2 separate regions of the Homo sapiens genome follow, and region 2 is linked to region 1. Evidence: fine-mapped expression QTL. Tissue or cell type: whole blood. Region 1 holds a variant in brackets; the other region holds the start of a gene. All regions are shown on one strand. Distances are between the middles of the regions.

Evidence for each region. PIP is the estimated chance that this variant, and not a neighbour inherited with it, causes the effect.
Region 2: BBC3 starts here. The variant in region 1 is fine-mapped to the expression of BBC3 in whole blood (TOPMed, PIP above 0.99).

What each region holds. Positions count from the first base shown.
Region 1 is chr19:47,176,787-47,184,889 of GRCh38, reverse strand. All of the region lies in intron 6 of SAE1 (SUMO1 activating enzyme subunit 1), which reads right to left. Among named protein-coding and RNA genes, the nearest start is that of MIR3190, 46 kb to the left of the region's middle. The variant T/C (reference allele first, on the strand shown) is at 3,744.
Region 2 is chr19:47,226,947-47,235,032 of GRCh38, reverse strand. It overlaps BBC3 (BCL2 binding component 3), which reads left to right and starts at 3,834. Exons shown (of 4, transcript NM_014417.5): 1 at 3,834-4,104; 2 at 6,587-6,875. The coding sequence starts at 6,602. It overlaps MIR3190 (microRNA 3190), which reads right to left; the gene lies at 8,012-8,086. MIR3191 (microRNA 3191) reads left to right here and starts at 8,014; the gene lies at 8,014-8,086. RefSeq lists enhancers at 2,298-2,567, 1,994-2,617, 3,327-3,446, 7,009-7,951 and silencers at 3,587-3,816, 3,957-4,676, 6,537-6,976.

The DNA.
Region 1 (8,103 bases):
ATCACACCACTGCACTCCAGCCTGGGGGACAGAGTGAGACTGTCTCAAAAACAAAACAAAACAAAACAAAACAAAACAAAACAAAACAAAAACAAAACAAAAACAAAAAAAACCCCACAACCATGTCATATCCTACATTCAGACTGAGCTCTCCTACGTAAAAAAATACGACAGAACGAGGCCGGCAGTGGTGGCTCACGCCTGTAATCCCAGCACTTTGGGAGGCTGAGGTGGGTGGATCACCTGAGGTCAGGAGTTCAAGAGTAGCCTGGCCAACGTGGTGAAACCCCATCTCTACTAAAAATACAAAAACTAAATGGGCATGGTGGCGGGTGCCTGTCATCCCAGCTACTCGGGAAGTTGAGGCAGGAGAATCGCTTGAACCCAGGAGGTGGAGGTTGCAATGAGCCAAAATCACACCATTGCACTCCAGCCTGGGCGACAAGAGCAAGACTCCATCTAAAAAACAAACAAACAAGCAAAAAACAAAAAAGACAGAATGAGGTAGGTACAACTGTTACCACCCCCATTTTAGTGGTAGGAAAACTGGGGCTTAGGAGAGGCTTATGGTCACGACGGATTTAAAAGTCACCACATTCTTAACCTCTACGTTATAGTGTCACCTTTGGAAAAGAGAAGAAACAGAAGACATGCCAATTTTTACAAAAATCACTTTAAAATGGATTTGGCTCCCCTAACCCAGAGCCCATCAATTTAAAATAATACAAACCACCATTTCAGACTAGCCCCAGCCCAATATTCTATTCCTTTCCTTAAAAATGTCAGGCGATTCCAGAGCTTGACTCTCACCTTTAAGGTGAAACATTCTAACTAGTATGAAAAAACTAATTTACAAAAAGGAAAAAAAAATCTAAAAGTCACAGGGAAATAATGTGGACAACAAGAATAAACTTCCATGGGCCCCTAATGCATTGCTTTGCCAACCACACCCTCTGGTCACAGAACTGTTCTGACAGAGCCCTCTACATTCAGAGCCACCCTGCCTGGTCACAAGCAGCAGGGAGAGAGGGTCTTGTCTCCAGCCCAGCACTTGAGCAGCACATGACCTTGACTCTAGGCATCTGCTGCTCTCTGCCAACCCCTCTTGCCGAGGGAAGATGGCACAGGACATTCCCGTGACTGTTGTCTGACAGTCAGAGAAAAGATGTGAGGCTTTAAACAAGAATTGCAGCTGGGCCTTGGGGCCTGTGAGCAGCTCAAACACAGGCTACTGCCAAGTGGGTGGGGGAGTGGGGGAGATGTGGGCCTGCTAAGAAAAAAAGCAAGGCAGGTTGCTGACAATGTTGCCCATTATTGTAATCTGATCTTGGTGGGCCTCAGTTTCCCATCTGCAAAAGTGGAATAAGAAAATGTCACGAGGTGCCTGTGAAGTTTAGACAAAATAATCATCATAATGGTATTATTAGTAATGCTAATAATTAAAGTCTGACTGAGCACTTTGTTGGGCGATGCTTAAACACAAGGCCCTGGGGATGACAGTGTGACAGCTCTGGCTCGTTTAGACTCTAACACTTACTGCGTGTGATGACCCTGGACAAATGACTTAGCCCTTCCAAGATTCAATTTCCTCATGTGAAAACAGGACAAGACCTGATCTAGTAAGGCTGTCATGAAGATTTAATATGATCACAATGCATGTAAAGTACGTGAACCGGTCAGGCACAGTGGCTCACGCCTGTAATCCCAGCACTTTGGGAGGCCAAGGTGGGTGGATCACCTGAGGTCAAGAGTTTGAGACCAGCCTGGCCAACATGGTGAAAGCCCATCTCCACTAAAAATACAAAAATTAGCCGGACGTGGTGGTAGGCACCTGTAATCCCAGCTACTCGGGAGGCAGAGGCAGGAGAATTGCTTGAACCTGGGAGGCAGAGGTTGCAGTGAGCCAAGATTGTGCCACTGCACTCCAGCCTGGCTGACAGAACGAGACTGTTTCAAAAAAACAGTCAAAAAAAGAGACAGGGTGTTGCTATGTTGCCCATGTTGGTCTTGGACTATTGGCCTCAAGCAATCCTCCCACTTTGGCCTCCCAAAGGGCTGGGATTACAAGCCTGAGCCACCACACCCCGCCTGTAACCAGTAACTATTAATTCACAATGTGTGCCAGGCCTTCATCTAATCCTTCCAGTACTGTGTAGTATAGACTTGGTGCTGAACCTCTCTTGCAGACCGAGGAGCAGAGTCGGTGACTAACCAGTTCTGTTCTCTCATGAGCTCTCTGCTGTAAGGCACTGAGCCGCATTTGTGGGTCACCTCTGCCCTTCTCCTCACCTCTCCTGTTTCCATGGTGGTGCCTTCTTCCTTTCTGAATGACTGTGGTCTGCATTCTCTACCACTGATAAGGCAGTGGTGTGCGCGCGCGCGTGCGTGCGCGCACACACACACACACACACACACACACACACACTACGCTTTTTTCTTTTTCCTTACAAATTATTTTTAAACATCTGTGGTCATGACAGCAGCAAATCAACAAGCACTCAGCTGCTGCCCCATTATCGGAACCCATTTCCCTGTGGCTGTCTCTTTCTCAGCAGTTTTTGTCATTACTGGACACCAAAAACCCACTGGGGAATGTCATACCCAAATAGCGATGGCTGCCTATGGCCTGCTTTGCAAAGGTTACAAGTTCTAAAATAAGAAGTTTCTTCTGAAGAGAACTAATCACCAAATCCAGCCGGCATCCAAAGACAACGTCATTTAAAAATCACAAAACAGGAAAGTTGGGAGTGTGAATGAGGGGAAATTGAAGAATGAGGAAAGAAAATTTTCTAAATTATCTAACAGGCTGGGTGCAGTGGCTCACGTCTGTTATCCCAATGCTTTGGGAGGCAGAAGTGGGAGGATCACTTGAGCCCAGGAGTTCAAGACCAGCCTAGGCCATGGAGTGAGGCCTCTCTACAATAAAATTAAAAATTTAGCCTACAATAATCCCACCTACTCAGAAGGGTGATGTGGGAGGATCGCTTGAGTCCAGGAGGCTGAGGCTGCAGCAAGCTGTGATCATACCACTGCACTACAGCCTTAGAGCAAGACTCTGTCTTAAAAAAAAAAAAAATTCTGTAAAATTAAAAAAAAAAAAAAAAAAAAAGAGGCCAGGTGCACTGGCTCACACTTATAATCCCAGCACTTCAGGAGGCTGAGGTGGGAGGATCACCTGAGGCTAGGAGTTCGAGACCAGCCTGGCTAACATGGCGAAACCCCATCTCTACCAAAAATACAAAAATTAGCCAGGTGTGGTGGCGGGCACCTGTAGTCCCAGCTACCTGGGAGGGGGAGGCAGGAGAATGGCGTAAACCTATGAGGTGGAGCTTGCAGTGAGCCGAGATGATGCCACTGCACTCCAGCATGGGCGACAGAGTGAGACTCCATCTCAAAAAAAAAAAAAAAAAAAAGGAAAAGAAAAAACAAGAAAAACAAAACAAAAACCATTCTCTTAAATAACCATGAGACAATTATCATAACTGTAAAAATAAATAACATGGAAACAGTACTGCTATCTAACCTACAGACCTTTTTATTTGTTTTTTATTTTATTATTATTATTACTATTTTGAGATAGAGTTTCGCTCTTGTTGCCCAAGCTGGAGTGCAATGGCGCGATCTCGGCTCACCACAACCTCCGCCTCCTGGGTTCAAGCGATTCTCCTGCCTCAGCTTCCCAAGTAGCTGGGATTACAGGCATGCACCACCACGCCTGGCTAATTTTGTATTTTTAGTAGAGA[T/C]GGGGTTTCTCCATGTTGGGCAGGCTGGTCTCGAACTCCCGACCTCAGGTGATCCACCTGCCTCGGCTTCCCAAAGTGCTGGGATTATAGGCGTGAGCCACCACGCCGGGGCCTCTTTTTACCAATTGTTCCACTAACATCCTTTAGAGCAAAAGAAAAAAAACCTTCCTCTATTCTCAGATCCAACCCAGGGTTACATATTCCAAGAGGCATGAGGTCTAACTGTCCATCCCTAGATTGTTAATTTCATCACTCAGCTGAGGTACAACCTGCCAGGGTTCTCCAATGTCTCTCTATGTAATTCATTTAAAAGCATCTTCTTTTTCGGGGGAGACAAAGTCTTGCTCCCAGGCTGGAGTGCAGTGGTGCAATCACAACTCACTGCAGCTTCGACCTCCTGCGCTCAACCGATCCTCCCATCTCATCCTCCTGAGTAGCTAGGACTACATGCATGCACCACTGTATCTGGCTAACTTTTTTATTTTTTGTAGAGATGGGGTCTCGTTTTGTTGCCCAGGCTGGTCTCAAAACTCCTGGGTGCAAGTGATCAATTTGCCTCAGCCTCTTGGGATTTATAGGGGTGAGCCACCAGGCATAGCATAAAAGCATCTGATAAGGAAACATCTACACTGTTTCACCGCAAACTGTTCCCCATTGATTTTAGCACTTTGATTCTTGATTGAAACAATTGTTACTACTATGGTGATAGTCAAAGATAGACTTTGTTATCTTCATAATTCCTTGTTTACATTAATTGATTATTCTTCTTGTTCTTTTGACATGCCCCTATCATTCTTAGAGCACTTCCTTACTTTCTGGCATAGCAGGATATTCCAAGCTCACCTGTAATTTTCCTACCCCAGATCTGGAAACAGCCATTTCTCCAAGGAACCCTGGTTTCTCTTTAGTGAGGAAAGGTATTAACATCTTGGCATGAGTGCGTTCAGTGCTTCTGGGATGTCTCTGGGCATAAACCCTCTCAACAATTCTAGGAAACAATTCTAGGAAATAAACACGTGTAAAAGTGGATATGCATACACACATACATCTATTACTACATCTACGTATAAGAAACCATGAGTTCATCCAGATAACTTCAATTCCAATCCAATACCACATGGCTCCTTCTAGCCTTTCCCACTGTCCACATTCATAGGAACACCCTTTTCTGACAATAAGAAAACTTGATTCTCACTATTAACACTATACTTACCTATCTGCTCAATCTTAGAAGAACAGTAAGTAGTTTCAGAATTGCTAACCCCTATCACTGTGAAAAACAAACCTACTAGGCCAGGCAAAGTGGCTCACACCTGTAATCCCAACACTTTGGGCAGGAGGCTCACTTCAGCCCAGGAGACAGAGACTACCCTGGGCAACACAGTGAAACCCCGTCTCTACAAATAATACCAAAATCAGCTGGGTGTGGTATTGCATGCCTGTAATCCCTGCTACTTGCCTATAATCCCAGCTACTTGGGAGGCTGTGATGTGAGGATTGCTTGAGCTGGGAGGGAGAAGCTGCAGTAAGTTATGATCGTGACACTGCACTCCAGCCTGGGGTACAGAGCAAGACCTCATCTGAAAACAAAATCCCTACTAAGCAGAGTTCAATATTTATTTAGAGTTTTTCTTTTTTTTTTTTTCTTAAGATGCTCTGTCACCCAGGCTGGAGTGCAATGGAGCAACCTCGGCTCACTGCAACCTCTGCCTCCAGGGTTCAAGCAATTCTCCTGCCTCAGCCTCCCAAGTAGCTAGGATTATAGGAGTGTGCCACCATGTCTGGCTAATTTTTTTGTACTTTAGTAGAGACAGGGTTTCACCATGTTGCCCAGGCTGGTCTCAAACTTCTGAGCTCAGGCAATCCACCTGCTTCAGCCTCCCAAAGTGCTAGGATTACAGGCGTGAGCCATCGCGACCGGCTAGAGATTTTTCTTTCTTTTTTTTTTTTTTTTGGAGACAGAGCCTTGTTCTGTCGCCCATGCTGGAGTGCAGTGGTGAGATCTCGGCTCACTGCAAGCTCTGCCTCCCGGGTTCACACCATTCTCCTGCCTCAGCCTCCCAAGTAGCTGAGACTACAGACGCCCGCCACCACGCCCGGCTAATTTTTGTATTTTTAGTAGAGACGAGGTTTCACCGTGTCAGCCAGGATGGTCTCGATCTCCTGACCCTGTGAGCCACCCACCTCAGCCTCCCAAAGTGCTGGGATTACAGGCATAAGCCACCGCGCCAGGTGAGATTTTTCTTTACTTTGAGGGTATGCAGTCAAAATACTATATTGAACAGCTACTTGGGTTAGCTCCTTTTTCCTCCCTGCTTCAGTGCACAAATGTAATTTGAAATACAGTGCTTAACACATTTTAAAAGAAAAACGCAGGCTATGCACGATGGCTCATGCCTATAAACTCAGCACCTGGAAGGCCGAGGTGCATGGATCACTTGAGGTCAAGAGTTCGAGACCAGCCTGGCCAACATGGCGAAACCCTGTCTCCACTAAAAATACAAAAATTAGCCAGGCATGGTGGCGTGTGCCTGTGATCCCCACTACTTGGAGGCTGAGGCAGGAGAATTGCACGAATCCAAAAGGCGGAGGTTGCAATGAGCTGAGATTGCACCTGCAACTCCAGCCTGGGCAACAAAGCTAGACTCTGTCTCAAAAATAAAATAAACATAAACGAGTAAGCAAAGGCTTTGACCTGGGAAATGGGCTTCCCTTTCCTATGACAGTACTTTCCCCTAACTTGGCTGATTTGAGAAACCTGGGTGCTATAGAAAAATGCAGACATGCAAGTCACTCCTAGCTATCTGGATTCAGTAATGTGAGCTACAAGCAGGCACTCCGCATTTTTCAACGGTTTCCTCAGTGATTCTGACTGATAGATAGATAGATTTCTTTTTTTTTTTTGGAGATGGAGTCTTGCCCTGTCGTCAGGCTGGAGTGCAGTGGCGCGACCTCAGCTCACTGCAACCTCTGCCTTCCAGGTTTTCAAGCGATTCTCCTGCCTCCCCCTCCCGAGTAGCTGGGACTACAGGCGCACACCACCATGCCCAGCTAATTTTTGTATTTTTAGTAGAGATGGGGTTTCACTATGTTGGCCAGGATGGTCTCGATCTCTTGACCTCATGATCTGCCCACCTCAGTCTCTCAAAGTGCTGGGATTACAGGCGTGAGCCACCGCGCCTGGCCAGATTCTGATATTCTATCAATAGGGAAACCACTAGCCTGCTCTCTCCAAGCTCCAGTCCCCTCCGAGGCTCAGCCTCTATCCTGCTGGCCCTGTGCATGTGTTGCTCTGCAATATTCTTCCCTCTTTCCCACCTGGCAAATACCTGTTCCGAGAAATACAGCTCAGATCTCCCCTCCTCTGTCAAGACTTCACAACTCCCCAAAGATGGTCAGACCTTCAGTTTCCTAAGTTCCCATAATAAATTACTTTGATTATTATGGAATAATGCAAATGTATTTAAAAACAGAACAACGAGCCAGGCAGGGTGGTGCTTTCCTATAGTCCCTCTTTGGGAAACTGAGGTGAGAGGATTTCTTGAGGCCAGGAGTTCAAGGCCAGCCTGGGCAACATAGCAAGACCTCCCTGCCCCAATCTGTACAAACAGATTTTTTAAAATAGCTGGACATGGTGGCACACGCCTGTAGTCCCAGCTACTTTGCAGGTCGAGGTGAGAGGATAACTTGAGCCCAGGAGTTCAAGGCTATAGTGAGTTATGATTGTGCCACCACACTCCAGCCTGGAAAGCAGAGCAAGACCCTGTTTTGGGGGGGAAAAAAAACAAACAAAAACCAGGAACAACACATGATAGTTTCTATAGCCCTCTGTTATAGCTGTCCTCACAAGGAGTAGAATTATTTGTTTGTCTTTCACATTGGCAAGAACACTTATTCTATTCCTCTTCCTCTGATTAGTCCCAGCTATGAGATCTGGTACATAGCAGGTGCTCACAAAATGTTTGGTCTAAGAATATTTTCAGCTTCAATTCTGTGGCTCAAAGATGGTCTAAGTACTTTTCCATAACTCATCAGAACAGAGACTGAGCAAGTTAAGATTGCCAAGAATTCTCTGATAAGTATTCTCATCTTGAGATGAAGTCCATTTCTTCCTGCTCTAGGCTAAACCTGTATGTTATTGTTCATGCTGGTAAGTGAATGCTGTTTCCATACCAGACTCGGTATTTTTAGCACTCCTGTTATGATAAACTCACAGTAACCTCAAAAAGAACAAATCAAAGTCATTTTTTTGCCACAGGAAACCAGCTCACGCTTACTGTTTTGCAACATGCCATGGGAGAATAATAAAAAGAAGAGACCTTTTGCTCACAGATGGCGAGGCCAACTCTCAAGACAGTGG
Region 2 (8,086 bases), 50 kb before region 1:
CGAACTCCTGACCTTAGGTGATCCACCCACCTCGACCTCCCAAAGTGCTAGGATTACAGGCGTGAGCCCCTATGCCCGGCCTCAAAATTGTATTTTGTAGTGTGTTTTTTTTTTTGACAGAGTCTTGCTCCGTTGCCCTGTTTGGAGTGCAGTGGCACGATATCTGCTCATTGCAACCTCTGCCTCCTGAGTTCAAGTGATTCTCCCGTCTCAGCCTCCCGAGTAGCTGGGACTACAGGTGTGCGCCACCAATTTTTGGCTAACTTTTATATTTTTGGTAAAGACGGGGCTTCACCCTGTTGGCCAGGCTGGTGTCGAACTCCGGACCTTAAGTGATCCACTCGCCTCGGCCTCTCAAAGTGTTAGGATTACAGGCATGAGCCACCGTGCCCAGCCTGTAGTGTATTTTTGTTGTTGGCGTTTTGAGACGGAGTTTTGCCCTTGTCGCCCAGGCTGGAATGGAATGGCGCGATCTCGGCTCACCGAAACCTCCTTCCCTTGGGTTCAAGCAATTCTTCTGCCTCAAGCTCCCGAGTAGCTGGGATTACAGGCACCCACCACCATGCCCAGCTAATTTCTGTATTTTTAGTAGAGATGGGGTTTTACCATGATGGCCAGGCTAGTCTCAAACTCCTGACCTCAGGTGATCCACGTCCCCCGGCCTCCCAAAGTGCTAGGATTACAGGTGTGAGCCACCATGCCCGGCCTGTGGTGTATTTTTTTTTAACTCTGGTCAAAGCAGTCATGCACACCTATAATCCCAGCTACTAGGGAGGCTGAGGTGGGAGGATCGCTTGAGCGCAGGAGTTTGAAACCAGCCTGGGTAACACAGCCAGAATCTGTCTCAATTAAAACAACAACAAAACCTCTTGTCTAGGTCAGTAAAATTGCAGGTAGAAGTTGTGGTAATACAAAATTGTGTACTTTTATCACCACTTACACACCATACACCTAAAAAGAGTGAATATTCTTGTGTCTAAATACATCTCAGTAAAGCGCAAGTTGGTTGGGATGTGAATGCATCTTACTGAGTAAAATGCATTAAGTCAGCCGGGCATGGTGGTTCACACCTGTAATCCCAGCACTGAGGGAGGCGGAGGCAGGAGGTTTGCTTGAGCCCATAAGGTCAAGACCAGACTGGGCAACATAGCGAGACCGCCCATCTCTACAAAAAAATAAAAATTAGCTGGGCGTGGTGGTTTACACCTGTAGTCCCAGTTACTTGGGAGGCTGAGGCAGGAGGATCTCTGGAGCCCAGGAGTTTGAAGCTGCAAGGCTATTGTACCACAAGGCTATCCATTGTGCCACTACACTCCAATCTGGGCGACAGAGTGAATCTTTTATCTAAAAAAAAAAAAGGCTGGGCCAGGTGCAGTGGCTCACGCCATAATCCCAGCACTTTGGGAGGCCGAGGAGGGCAGATCACGAGGTCAGGAGATCGAGACCATCCTGGCTAACATGGTGAAACACTGTCTCTACTAAAAAATACAAAAAATTAGCCGGGTGTGGTGGCAGACGCCTGTACTCCCTGCTACTGGGGAGGCTGAGGCAGAAAGGCCTGAACCTGGGAGGCGGAGCTTGCAGTTTGCTGAGATCGTGCCACTGCACTCCAGTCTGGGCAACAGAGTGACATTCCGTCTCAAAAAAAAAAAAAAAAAAAAGCTGAGTGCAGTGGCTCACACCTGTAATCCCAGCACTTTGGGAGGCCAAGACAGGCGGATCCCGAGGTCAGGAGTTTGAGACCAGCCTGGCCAATATGGTGAAACCGCATCTCTACCAATAATACAAAAATTAGCTGGGCATAGTGGCGCACACCTGTAGTCCCAGCTACTAGGGAGGCTGAGGCAGAAGACTTGCTTGAACCCAGGAGGCGGAGGTGGCAATGAGCCGAGATCATGCCACTGAACTCCAGCCTGGGCGACAGCGCGAGACTCTGTCTCAAAAAAAAAAAAAAAAGTAAGATCCATGTAAGTGATGTCATATGTCATAATCCATGGTTTACTCATGACCCACAGTTTGGAAAACACCAGGAAGAAGGAAGGGACAATGAATAATCGGGGAAAGCGAAAGAGGAGGGAAAGTGAAAGAGGGAGGAAAGCTGAGGAGTTCCCAATGTTGCAAATGGGGAGATTTCACGTGAGATATAGATTACCTGCATCTCTTGGGGGAGCTAAGAGTGTGTACTTGGAGGCAGTCAAGTTTGAGAAGTCTGACATCCTTACTCAGCCAGCCCCACACTAGGCACTGGAAGGTGAGTCACTCTGGTGAGGCGATTGCGATTGGGTGAGACCCAGTAAGGATGGAAAGTGTAGAGGAGACAGGAATCCACGGCTTTGGAAAAAGGAAGGACAAAACTCACCAAACCAGAGCAGGGCAGGAAGTAACAATGAGAAACTGAAAAAGAAACGGAATGGAAAGCTATGAGACAGGATGAAATTTGGCATGGGGTCTGCCCAGGCATGTCCATGCCAGGTGCCCAGGGCTGCTTCCACGACGTGGGTCCCCTGCCAGATTTGTGGTGAGTGTGGCCAGGTGTGCATGCTCCGACGTGTGTGCAGTGGGCCAGTTAGCAAGAAGCTGTCACAGGTGTGACTTTGTGACATGTGTGGGTGGTCAGTTTCTTCTATGTCTGATTTGGTTTGTGTCTCTGAATGTCAGTTTCTTTCCTTTATTTTTATTTTTAAGACGGAGTTTGCTCTTGTTGCCCAGGCTAGAGTGCAATGGCACTATCTCGGCTCACTGCAACCTCCGCCTCCCGGGTTCAAGCAGTTCTCCTGCCTCAGCCTCCCAAGTAGCTGGGATTACAGGCATGCGCCACAACGCCCGGCTAATTTTGTATTTTTAGTAGAGATGGGGTTTCATCATGTTGGTCAGGCTGGTCTCGAATTCCTGACCTCAGGCAGTCCACGCACCTTGGCCTCCCAAAGTGCTGGGATTACAGGCATGAGCCACCGTGTCGGGCGAATGTCACTTTCTGATAGTTTTAATGTGTTAGCTGTGAAATTGTGTGAGTGCATTTGTGTATGTCCCTGTGGGAGTGTGATTTGGATTTGGCCGTGTATCCAGGTATCCCTGTAACAGGTGTCTGTGTGTATGTGTGTGTCCCCTGTGCCTATCAGCAAGTTTGTGTTTCCTGATAAGCACTCCGCCTATGTCTGTGTGGTTGCACCACCGTGTGTGTGGTGTGGGTGCCTGTTCGGTAGGGTTGTTTGTGAACACAGTTTGTGGGCCCAGGTGTGATCATCAGTGTGGGTGTTTCTGCAACTGTGTGTGGCCCTGTCATTGTGTCCGTCTGCTTGTCCAGGGGACCCTGTTAGTGAGTCTGTGCATTTCCGTCTGGGTGTGTGTAAGTGTGAGCCCCATCAGTATGTGAGTGTGTGTGCTCATGCCCCTGTCCATGGTGTGGATTTGCGAGACTGTGGCCTTGTGTCTGTGAGTACATCCTCTGGGCTCTGCCTGCACGTGACTTTGTGGACCCTGGAACGCCCGTCGGTCGGTCTGTGTACGCATCGCTGGGGGTGTGGATCTGTGGGTCCCAGTCAGTGTGTGTGTCCGACTGTCCCGGTGTCTGGGCGATCTCCCCACACCCCGCCGCACAGCGCCTGGGTCCTCCTTGCCTTGGGCTAGGCCCTGCCCCGTCCCCCGCTGCAGGGAAACCCCCGGCGCGGAGGTAGGGGGGGGCGCGGCGCGCGCCTGCAAGTCCTGACTTGTCCGCGGCGGGCGGGCGGGGCCGTAGCGTCACGCGGGGGCGGGGCGTGGGACCCGCCGGGCGGGGGCGGGGCGGGGCGGGGCGGGGCGGCTTTGGAGCGGGCCCGGGATCCGCCGGGCGGCCTGAGACGCGGCGCGAGCCACATGCGAGCGGGCGCCTGGCGGCGGCGGCGGCGGCACCAGCGATCCCAGCAGCGGCCACGACGCGGACGCGCCTGCGGCCCGGGGAGCAGCAGCAGCCACAGCCACAGCAGCCGCCACTGCAGTTAGAGCGGCAGCAGCAGCGACAGCCACAGCAGCAGCCGCCGCGGAGAGCGGCGCTCGGCGGGCGCGCCCTCCTGAAGGAAGCCGCCCGCCCCCCACCGCCGCCCCCTCCGGCGTGTTCATGCCCCCGGGGTGAGTGTGCGCGCCCCGAATCCTCTCCGGCGGCGATCGGCCAGGCCGGGTGGACTCCCTGGAGGAGGTGACAGGAGTGCAGGCGGAGAGCAGTGTGGGCGCCCTGCCTCCCCACACCGCGCCTCTCCAAACCCCGCGAGGGACCCTGGGCCAGGGTCGCCGGGTGAGAGGCGGCTCGGCGTTGGGGCGCCGGTCTGGGCGCACAGGTGCCTCGGCGGTCTGGCGGGTTTGTTTACAAACAATGGGGTGCGGGCTCGGCAGCGCCCCCTGGCGGCCAGTGCGGCCCCGGGGAAGAGGGTCGACCCCAGGGGTGCCCCAGCCCCCAAAGTCCGGGAGGGGCGGGGGGGCGGCACGGAGGGGCGGCCACACCCAGGGCGCGCGCCCGCTGGGGGCGGCGACGGGGGGCGGCTCGCGGGCCGTGGAGTCTGCGGCTCCTGCGGGCGGGGGCTGCGCCCCAGCAACAGCCGGTTATTGGCCCCGCGCTCGCCTGGCGGGCGGGGCGGGCGCACGTGGCGGCGGTGGGGGGGGCTGTGACAGCGGAGGGGGGTGTCTGGGACCGCCGTGGGAGCGCGCGTGTGCGGGGTTGTGGATCTGCAGGTGTCTCGCCTGGGTGTGTGCGCGTGTCTGGCTCCGAGTTTGTGCTGGGTTCTGCAGGGAGTGGTGGTGTCGATCCAGAGGAATGTTGGGGTTTCTGACCCGTCGGGGTGTCTGCGTGAGTCCCCGCGCCTGTTTGTGTGGGGTTCTGTCTGTGGGTGCCCTGCTTGTGGGGTGGGTGGACCTGCGTGTGTTGTCGGTGAGAGTTGTCTGTGTGTGCTGTTCCGGGATGATACTGGGGGTCTGTGGTGCCTGCGTGTGCTGGGGTGTGGAGGTTGTAGTGTGTGTGTGTTGCTGGAGTGAGCTGTTTGTGTGTTTATGTGTGTGTCTTGCCCGAGCGTGCGATATGTGTGCTTGTGTCTTGCCTGTGTGTTTCTGTCTTGGCTGAGGCCGTCTCTGTATCTCCGGGGCATGTGTCTTTTGCCCAGCGTTTGTGATGCTGCGCCTGCTAAATGCAAATGTCTGTTTTCTGTCCAGGTGTCTGTGTGAGTTGTCAGGTGTGAGTGTGTGTGTGTATGTATGTGTGTGGTGGGGGGTTGTTTCAGTCTGGGTTTGGCTTGTGTGTCTGGCATCAGCGTCTGGGATTTGAGGACCCAGGATCTGTGGGGTCTATGCAGTGTAGACGGTGGGTGTTGCTGGCAGCCTCTGGATGGGGTTGTGTCTGAGCCTGTGTGTGTGTGTGTGTGTTGGGTCTGAGGGGCTTGTCACTGTGATCGGCTGGCTCATGTGTGTCATGTGGGCTGCGTGTGTGTAGTGTTTATGTCAGTCACGTGAGACCAGTGTTTTCTGTGGGTGCGCTAGGTGTGTGTGCTGCTGGGCTGTGTGGGATTAGAGTTAGCTGTAGGGTGTGTGTGTGTGTGTGTTGCTGACAGTTGGTGATGATGTTTGAGGGTTGCGTGAGGAGGGTGGGTTGGTGTCTGGTGGTGTGTTGAGGTCTGATGGCATGTGTCTGTGTGTGCCTGATCTACGTGTGTCCTGAGAGTTGGTGACATGTGGGTGTGTTTTGGGGGTGTTGATGTATGTGTGTCCGTGGGTGTCTGTTTTGTGTTGATATGTGAGTCCAGAGGTGTGCAGGTCTTATCTCTGGAGTGAGTGTGTGTGTGTGGAGAGGGGCATGTTTGGGAACTGAGGCAGTGCCTAGCTTGTGTGTGTGTGTTTGTGTTTGCAAAGGCTGCATTGTGTTTGCATGTGCCCCTGGGCATATCAACAGTGGGTCAGTGTGTGAGACTTTGACAGTTTGGATGTGTGGGGATGGATTGTGCCAGCCAGTGTGCGCAGTATGTAGAGTGCTTGTGATGGTCTGTCTGGATGCTCCTGCTTTGGTCGGGGGTGTGTGTGTATTGTGTGTACTGAGTAGTGATGTCCGAGACTGGGGCCATCTCAGTGTTTGTGTGCAAGTGGGAGGTGGGGTGGGCGGTCAGGCTGGCCAGTCCCGTGTGAGTCCTTGTGTGTGTGCTGTGGGGGCCTCGCTGTGCCTCACTGCCCTCCCTGTGTGCCCGTCGCTGTGTTGGGAAAGTTGTCCCCACCAGCCCATGCTGTGAGTCCCAAGTGGAGTGAGTTTGTGTTGTGGGACTGTCACAGCCCTCATACACACACCTGCTAGACCCCTCCATCCGTCCTGTGTGAGCCCTGTCCTTGCTGTGAGAGCCGTCCTGTGCCCCCTGTCCCTCCTGTGTGCCCATCACCGTATGCACGGGAGGCTCTCCAGGCCAGCCAGGACCCGGTGGTGTCATCCCCCGGCTGGGCGTGTCTCTGTGGGGCCGTCACCCCCTCCGCATGCACACACACCTCCACTCTTCTCCATCTGGGTCCTAACCCCGGGTAGGCTGGAGGTACAGTGGGCCCTGGTACTTCCCTGCTGACCTGCTCCTCCTCCCGTGTCCCGCAGGCCCCAGGGAGCGCCATGGCCCGCGCACGCCAGGAGGGCAGCTCCCCGGAGCCCGTAGAGGGCCTGGCCCGCGACGGCCCGCGCCCCTTCCCGCTCGGCCGCCTGGTGCCCTCGGCAGTGTCCTGCGGCCTCTGCGAGCCCGGCCTGGCTGCCGCCCCCGCCGCCCCCACCCTGCTGCCCGCTGCCTACCTCTGCGCCCCCACCGCCCCACCCGCCGTCACCGCCGCCCTGGGGGGTTCCCGCTGGCCTGGGGGTCCCCGCAGCCGGCCCCGAGGCCCGCGCCCGGACGGTGAGTGCCCGCCCCGCCCCCGGGGTGATAGGAGCCGGGAAGAGAGAGGGCTGGAGACTCGGAGGAACTGGAGAAGTGGGAGAGGACGGGGGGAGGTGGCGGGCCCAGCCGGGCCACTGGGAGGGTGTGGCCAATGTGGTCTTTGTGTTGCAAGAAGCAGGAAGACGGAGGCTGGGGGTGGAGGGGGAGGTCAAGTGGGAAGTCCCTCCTGGAATCTGACTGCAGTCCCCGAATTGCAGCCCACTGTCTCTTCCGGGCCTGGGGCAACAGCTGCATCCCAGCTCCCCTCCCCCAGTCTGGGTCCTCTAGACCCCCTGGAGGATTCCTGTTGCAGGGAGAGTGGGCCGAGCGGGAGGACTGTCAACTCTGGCCTCTGGGGAGGGGTCGAGAGGCCTTTTGCTTTTATTTGCATCTCTTTGGCCAGGGGCTGTCCTCAGCAGTCCCGGCGGAGGAAGGAGAGGGGGAGGGGCCATTGTGTTGGGAAGTCCCCTCGGGGAGGTGGGGGAGTCTTGGGGAGGGAAGGGTTAAAGGTCCCCTGCCTGATGGGCTGTTAACCCTGTGGTGCCCGTGGAGCCCCATCCCTGCCGGCAGGCGCTCTAGGGAAAGTGTGTCCTGGTTTCCCATCCCCCATCTTGTCCCGGCAGCCCAAGGGGAGCGAGGAAAGAGAAAACTTCCCTAACTCAGTTCCTGGAAGCCCTGGAAGGGGACACCGATTTCAAGGCCAAGGTCACAGATGTGGAAACTGAGGCCCTGGCTGTAGGCCTTAGGGAACCCTCAGGCCAGGACCTGGTGGGACGGGAGGGCAGGAGCCTCCTAGGGCGCTCAGAAGTGGGGGGGGGGGGGGGGCAGGAAGGCATCTCCCGCGTCCCAGCCCCCCAGGCCCGCGCTCTGAAGCTGCCACAGTCTCTGGCCTTCTGGTCTCTAGGCCTCTGCCACATCCGGAGGTGTGGCTTCCCTGTGGTTGGACACGAGAGGGCAGGAGACCTGAGGCTTGTGATCTGGGTGGGGTCAGTCACTGTATCCCTGTGTGACCTTGGGATACTCCCTAAGGGCGGGCCTCAGTTTCCCTGCCTGTCACATGGAAAAGGCAAAATGTGGCCCCTTTGGAAAATAGAGGTCGTTAAGCCTGACCACCCCCGGGGTCACCTCTCTGGCCGTCTACCTTCCACACTGACAAGGGCCGTGGGGACGTAGCTGGCCAGACAGGTGAC